Linked DNA regions of Homo sapiens. The protein of the gene in region 1 interacts with the protein of each later gene in a biochemical or structural test. Each region holds a gene or a part of one and is shown in the gene's direction. Other genes may lie near its edges.

Evidence for each region.
Region 2: the proteins of EFL1 (region 1) and SBDS interact in a biophysical measurement, tested with the Homo sapiens proteins (2 studies listed by BioGRID and IntAct, with this or other methods).

Annotation. Positions count from the first base shown.
Region 1 is NC_000015.10:82,255,889-82,260,017, reverse strand, and holds part of EFL1 (elongation factor-like GTPase 1), read left to right. Parts: intron 1-862; coding exon 863-930; intron 931-4,129. UniProt on the Homo sapiens protein: GTPase involved in the biogenesis of the 60S ribosomal subunit and translational activation of ribosomes.
Region 2 is NC_000007.14:66,994,079-66,997,678, reverse strand, and holds the start of SBDS (ribosome maturation protein SBDS), read left to right. Parts: upstream 1-2,092; 5' UTR 2,093-2,261; coding exon 2,262-2,389; intron 2,390-3,337; coding exon 3,338-3,467; intron 3,468-3,600. Other genes in the region: S-adenosyl-L-methionine-dependent tRNA 4-demethylwyosine synthase TYW1, read right to left, coding at 697-700. UniProt on the Homo sapiens protein: Required for the assembly of mature ribosomes and ribosome biogenesis.

The DNA of each region.
Region 1 (4,129 bases):
AGGGAGGTATATACTTGGTGTACTTAGAATAAATTCAGCTTTACTGGGTAGCAGGAAAGTGATGCTCTAGGATTATATGCTAATACATATTTACATTGCAGACAGATAGCAGTGTTAAATATCTTCAGTTCTCCTACTCATTGGTCTCTGGTTTGAACAATACAGAGATTCCATAGCTTTGCTGAAGTTCCTAAAGTGCAATAAAGACTTGTCTTGAAGGAAAAAAACCCTCCTTTGCTTACTCCAACCCAGTTGTAGTAATTATGCATACCCCTGACATTCTTTACACAGAATCACCTGTTTATATCACATAAAATCTCATAGACTTTAGTTGTATGTAGTCTGCTTAATAAAAGTAACTATAAATATATTCGAAGATTCTTTTGCTTTAAAGTAGATTCCTAGGTTTAGATTTGGATACTAGGTTTCATTGGTTGTTACAGTATGTTTATGCCCTCCACATGCTATATTACAAACAGTAAGAGATATGGATAATGTTCCTGAATTTCTTTGATAAGTAAGTATTTTCTTAAGACAGTTTAGCAAATTCCAGCTGAGGCCATGCATGGGGAAATATGGCAAAAGAGTATGTTCTCTAAAGTTACTTGACAACTTTTCAGATGAGGTTGAGTAGATCCACAGGGTTGGAGATAAGATTACAGCATTATAGAGTGCTAGCCTCTGTGTCCTTCCAGATGATATTCTGTTCAAAAGTCTAATAAATCTCTTTTGTCACCTAGCATAGGTAAATAGAAAATCTTTACTAAACCAATTCTTATGACCAGATTTTAAATCTATAGGTATGATCCATGACCCCTTTTAAAAAAGATATAGATTTGAATTGATGTTGCTATTTTAACAGGAAAAACTACTCTGGCTGACTGTCTTATATCTAGCAATGGAATCATCTCCAGCCGCCTAGCAGGCAAGGTATGTTATTATTTTATAAATACTTGTTGCATTTCAGTATTAGCTATCAACAATGTGATGAACCATTTTCTGTGTTCTTCAGCCATCCAAAAGGGTATAAAACATAATTCTTGCGTCTAAAAGCTGCCAATCCATTTTGCAAGATAAAAATGCTGAGGAGAAAAATAGTTACTTCTGTATTGCTTTGTATTGCTTTATCCTAAGTGCAAAAGTGAGTTTTTGCAGCAAGCAAATGATACACCATTGTGGAAGATTTCACAGCGCAAGAGATTCTTTGTAGGTGAATGAGTTGAGTGGTTTGAGGAGAAGACAGAAAAGCTACCAGGTAGTGGGAAATAAGACGGATAAAGGCTAATTTGTGTGTTGTGCTCTATTTGAGTGGAGTGTTTGCCTAGAGACTAGTGACAGAGAAAACATACTGGCAGGGAGAATAAGATTATAGAAGACCTTAAAAGTTAACCTAAGTATCAAAGGAAAGCTGCTTGTGCCTGAGGATTGTGATGAAAATAGTGGGTTTTTTGGTTTTTGTTTTTGAGACAGGATCTCACTCTGTTGCCCAGGCTAGAGTGCAGTGGTGTGATCATGCACGGCTCACTGCAACCTCGCCCTGTTGGGCTCAGGTGATCCTCCCACCTCAGCCTCTTGGGTACCTGGGACTACAGGTGCACACCACCACACCTGGCTAATTTTTTGTAGAGACAGGGTTTTGCCATGTTCCCTAGGCTGATCTTGAACTCCTGGGCTCAAGCAATCCTCCTGCCTTGACTTCCCAAAGTGCTGGAATTACAGGTGTGAGTCACCACACCTAGCCTGAAAATAGCGTTTGAGGAAATAAAATTAAAGAGATCTTTATTTGTAGCTATGAGTTGAAAGGGCTTGGAATAATTTACTTGGCAGTAGAAAAATAAAGATATATTCGTTTCCATAATGAATTTAGGATATGATCAATAGGGTTTATCAGGTGACAGAGAATAGAGAGAAGAGGAGACGGAGAAGCAAAATTGAATCCACAGGGTAGACCCAATAGACTTGAAGATCGATTTGGGAATTGATGTGTGGGTTGGGAGGGAAGCTGGCCCAAGATACTATCTAGAGGAGGCTGAAGAAAACTAGGTTGAGTGAAATAATGAAATGCTTATATTTTCCCCACTTGAGAATTTAGAGAAAGTACAAAACTGAAGTAAGTAGATGAAAGGAAATAGTAAAGCATAAATTAATGAAATAGTAAACAGACATTTTATAGAAAGGATCAGTGAAGCCAGAAGTTTGTTTTTGGAAAAGATTAACCCAGCTAACAAATACAAAGAGTGAACCCTAATGTAAACTATGGACTTTAATTAATCATAATGCATCAATATTGGTTCATCAGTTGTAACAAAGGTATCACACCATATGCTAATACAAGATAGATATAATAGGGGAAACTGTGTGGGTGGGAGGAGAGAGTATGTGGGAACCTTCAGTCAATTTTTCTGTAAACTTAAAGGTGCTCTAAAAATATAAAGTTATTAATTTAAACAATTACTAGCAATATAGACAATTTTTGATTCTCTTGACTAGGAAACTTTTTTGTTTTGTTTTTCATTGACATTGTTGAGGAACATTTGACACTTTTGACCTGGTAATGTTCCTAATGTGGCTCACTGTACTTTGGACATATAGAAAGCATAGTATATATAAATAAATATTTTTGAATGAATGACTTTAAAGAAGAGTAACACAACTGACAAAACACCAGCAAGATGATCAAGAAGAAAAGAGAGGAGGCAGAAATATGTGATACCCAGAAAGAAAAATGCTGCAGAAGTTAATAAGGTAATAATAGGATATAATGAACAACTCTGTGCCAGTAAACTTAAAAGTGCTAAAATGGAAAAATGTCTGGAAAACATAACTTGCTAAAATGGAGTCAAGAAGAAATAGGAAACTTGAATTATTCTATAGTCATTTAAGAAATTGAATTGGCTGGCAAAAATCTTTCCATAAAGTAAAGACCCAGATGGTTTAACTCTCTAGTTCTGCCAAACATTCAAAGAATAATTTCAGTCCTACTTAAACCATTTCAAAATATAGCAGAGAAAAACCCAACAATCGGCAGTATTCTCCAAATCATATGAAGATAGCATAACTTTGATACCAAAAGTCTGTTAAGGATAGTACAATATAGGAGAATTATATACCAACCTTATGATTATGGATGCAAAAATTATCATCCTCATTAACAAACAATTCAGCATAGTATAAAAAGATGATTATTCATATCCAAATCGAGTTTATCCCAAGGAATTCAAGATTGGTTTAACATGTAATTTCACTATATTAATGGATTAAAGGAAGAAAATCATGATCATTTCAACAGATATAAAGACATGTAGTAAAATTCAACATCTATTGTGATAAAACCTCTTTGCAATGTAGTTACAGAAGAGAACTTCTGTAATCTGATGTGGGATATTTATAAAAAACCTAAAATGAAGATTGAACTTAATGATGAAGTGTTAAAACTTCTCTATTCATAGCCAGGAATAAGGCAAGAATGGCTGTCACACCCTTCTGCTCATTGTGTTATAACTTCTACTTTAGATTGTACTGGAGGTTCTAGTTGCAGTGATAAAGCTGGAAAGAAAAATAAAAAGTGTGAATTTTGGAAAGGAAGAAAACAAAAATGTAGATAAATTGCTAGGATATTAGTAACAATTTGGCAGGTTTCAGGATACGAAAACTGTTGAAAAGAAGTATACGTGAGCAATAAATAGGTAATATACAGTAATTTAAAAACGTAAACCATTTAAATAGCATAATAAATGTACCTGTGCCGGGCATGGTGGCTCATGCCTGTAATCCCAGCTACTTGGGAAGCTAGGCAGGACAGTTGCATAAACCCAGGAGTTTGAGGCTGCAAAGAGCTGTGACAGCAACTGCACTCCGGCCTGGTGGATAGCACAAGACGCCATCTCTTCAAAAACAACAACAATAACAACAAAACCTATGAGATATTGGAGAAAACTTAAATGGAAGGATATACCATATTTACGTATTGGCTGTCTATTTTTTAAATGACATTTAAAAAATATTGATCTGTAGATTCAGCAATTCCAGTAAAAATTCCAACAGATTTTTAAAAATTTCAACTTGATATGCTGATTTAAAAATATATACAGAAGAGCAAATAAACCAATTAATAGCCGGGACTGAAGAA
Region 2 (3,600 bases), on another chromosome or scaffold:
CCAGCCTGGGCGACAGAGCAAGGCTCCATCTCGGGGGCGGGGGGGTGGGGAACAACTGTAATAAAAATAACACACTATGTAGTAACGTAATAAAATTATCACACTGTTAACACTAACTCAAAGAAAAAACAGAATATAAAATTGTATCTTCACTTCGAAATGAGCATTTAGAAGCAAGAGAAGGAACACAAAGTAAAAATACTTCATGTGAAATTAATTTTGTTTTGTTGTGCTTGCTCCATAAAAAAAGCTTAAGTAGTAAAAGCACTCTTTTTACTAACTGTACTTTCAAAGGCTCACGGTTAAACTTGTAAAAGATTCTCAAGTAACTGACCTTACACCTCATTTTTTTTTTTTTAAGAGAGATATGCAGGGACCTGGCTTCAAACGTTCAACCTGGGAGCAATTTCAAAAGTCGAGGCCTGAAATTTAGGCTTTACAGGTGCAAAAGTCCTAATACACGTAGGTAAAGTGGGAGGGGTAGTTTTCTGTCTAACCCCCTAGCCTCAAAAGGCAAAAGCCAGGTCAAAAGTAGGGATCAGTCCTCCTTGCTCTCAGCGGCGACTAGCCGGTGCTGTCAAGTGCAACAGTCTCCGAAGGAAAGGGACCGAGGACGCCACTCCGCCCGGAGAGGGTCTCAGTAAAACGTTTACCTCCCCTGCCGCCCCAGGGTCCTTGCCCGCCGAGTGCCCTTACCCATCCTCCTCAGAGCCGACAGGAGACTAGGATCTCGGACCTGGATAGCCCGATGATTCGCACTGGTACCGCGAGACGCACCGAGCTACCTCGCCGCGTTAGCGGCGTACCGAGTGCCTGCAGACCTGTGGGCAGCCATGACACTGCCAGGCCGGTCCTGATTGGTTCAGAGGACGAAGAGGTGGGCCCAGAGGAAAGCCCAGAGCTCCGGGAAAGGAAGCCAGTGCCCGGTGCGCTCTCGGCCCTGCTCCGATTGGCTCAGAGGGGAAAGGGGGCGTGCCCAGAAATAAGCACCTCCCAGAGTTCCAGGCGATGAAGGCGGAGCGCTTCCGCCTCCATTTGGATTGGCTCAGACTGGGAAAAGGCGGGCCCAGAGAGAAATGATTGGCATGGGAAAATTAAAAGAGGAAAGGAGCGGGGAGCGGGGGAAATGCTATGTGGGCCTGTTTGGATCTTAACTGAAATAAACCGACTGTAGAAAGGCATTATTTTTGGGAAACCCGAGGATGGACTCGCTATTAGATGATATTAAGGAATTGTAGTTAATCTCGTCGCGTGTATCTGTTAAGGGCTATAGGCTGAAGTATTTAATGCTGAAACCATATGATGGTTTCTTTAAAATACCCCCAACCGGCCGGGCGCTGTGACTCAAACCTGTAATCCCAGCACTTGGGAAGCCGAAGCGGGAGGATCGCTTGAGCCCAGGAGTTCGAGACCAGCCTGAGCAACATAGTGAGACCTCGTCTGTACAAAAAATTTTTTTTAATTATTTATTTAATTAAATTAGCTTGGCGTGGCCGCTCACACCTGTAGTCCCAGCTACTTGGGAAGCTAACGCTGGAAGATCGCTCGAACCCAGGAGGTCGAAGCTGCAGTGGGGCCATGACCCTGCCACTGCACTCCAGCCTGGGTGACAGAGTGAGACTGACTTAAAAAAAAAACTGTAAATAAAAAAGCAACAAAAAAATGAAAAAAGAATAAAACAAGGATGGCAAAATGTTGATAGCGGGGTGATGGGTACATAGAAGGTTCATTACACTTTTTTGTCTACATTTTATGTTAAAATATTTCTATTATAAAAGGGTGAGTAAATAAAAATATTTATTATAAAATAATTCTATTATAAAAAATATTTATATTATAAAGTGGGTCTGGCCCTTGAATTCCGCGGAACGAGGTGGTGCCAACGCTGTGTTTTAACCCGGTCACTAAACATCCGCGAGCATCCTGTCAGAGCTCTCAGCTCATTGGCGAAAGTAAATACGCCAAGGAAAAGCACCTCCCTTTTTGGGCGTGGAAAGATGGCGTAAAAAGCCACAATACGCAGGCGTCATCGCTCACTTTTCCCCTCCCGGCTTCTGCTCCACCTGACGCCTGCGCAGTAAGTAAGCCTGCCAGACACACTGTGACGGCTGCCTGAAGCTAGTGAGTCGCGGCGCCGCGCACTGGTGGTTGGGTCAGTGCCGCGCGCCGATCGGTCGTTACCGCGAGGCGCTGGTGGCCTTCAGGCTGGACGGCGCGGGTCAGCCCTGGTTCGCCGGCTTCTGGGTCTTTGAACAGCCGCGATGTCGATCTTCACCCCCACCAACCAGATCCGCCTAACCAATGTGGCCGTGGTACGGATGAAGCGTGCCGGGAAGCGCTTCGAAATCGCCTGCTACAAAAACAAGGTCGTCGGCTGGCGGAGCGGCGTGTGAGTAGCCCCCTCCCTCGGGCCTGGGCCTGGGCCTGAGCCGTCACCTCCGAGGCGGCCTGTCTCTGCCCAAGTCGAGTGAATGGGCCAGGCTGGGGTGTTGGCCGGGGAGGAAATGGAACATTCCTGCTGTGAGCATGAGACGTCGCTGTCCGAGCTTGGCGCCTAAGCCAAGGGTTTCTTCTTTATTTGGTTGGTTCGGATTGGGTTGTTGGTTTGGGGTTTTGTTTTGTTGGTGTCATAAAAGCTGCAGCCAAGAAATCTCGTAATTGTGGTCCTTTTCCTAGAATAATGATGGCTGAGAACCTAGTCTTACGAATACTGTCATAGTTGTGGGTACATCTGGTGTCATAGATCTCAGTAGCCCTAGCAGTTTAAAGTGCGTAGTGTCTTCACTGCTGCCATCTAGGGACTGGCATTCCGTGGCAGCAGCTGTCTGCACCCCACCCCACCCTTGTGTTTCTTACGTCCTCCCATGACATTTTTCTCCAGTGAGCAAATGGTAAGGCAAATACGGTTCTGAGTTTTGAAAATGTTCCCTCAGGCCGATGCGGGCAGTTCACTTGAGGCCAGGAGTTCGAGGCCAGCCTGGCCAACATGAAACCCCATCTCTACTAAAAATACAAAGTTAGCCGGGTGTGGTGGCGCATGCCTGTAATCCCAGTTACTCAGGAGGCTGAGGCGGGAGAATCACTTGAACCCGGGAGGCTGAGGTTACAGTGACCCGAGATCGCGCCATTGCACTCCAGCCTGGGCAAAAACAGTGAAATTCCATCTAGGGGCGGGGGTTGGGGGGTAAGAAAAAGAAAACTGCCCTCTACACTAAAGGTCATCAGGGGGATTTGTTGTGTCTTGCCGTTCATGTTGTTGCCATCTCGTATTTAAATGTAAATGCATGTCCAAGTTTCAAGTATATTCACATAGGACTTTCTCTCCTGCCCTCACAAGGGAAAAAGACCTCGATGAAGTTCTGCAGACCCACTCAGTGTTTGTAAATGTTTCTAAAGGTCAGGTTGCCAAAAAGGAAGATCTCATCAGTGCGTTTGGAACAGATGACCAAACTGAAATCTGTAAGCAGGTGGGTAACAGCTGCAGCATAGCTAACCCTAATAACCATTTATAACGTATTTGTAGATATATTAAACATTAAAGGCTGTTTTTCTGGAGGAAAGACTAACCAAGCAATAATGTGAACTGCACAGTGTCACTTC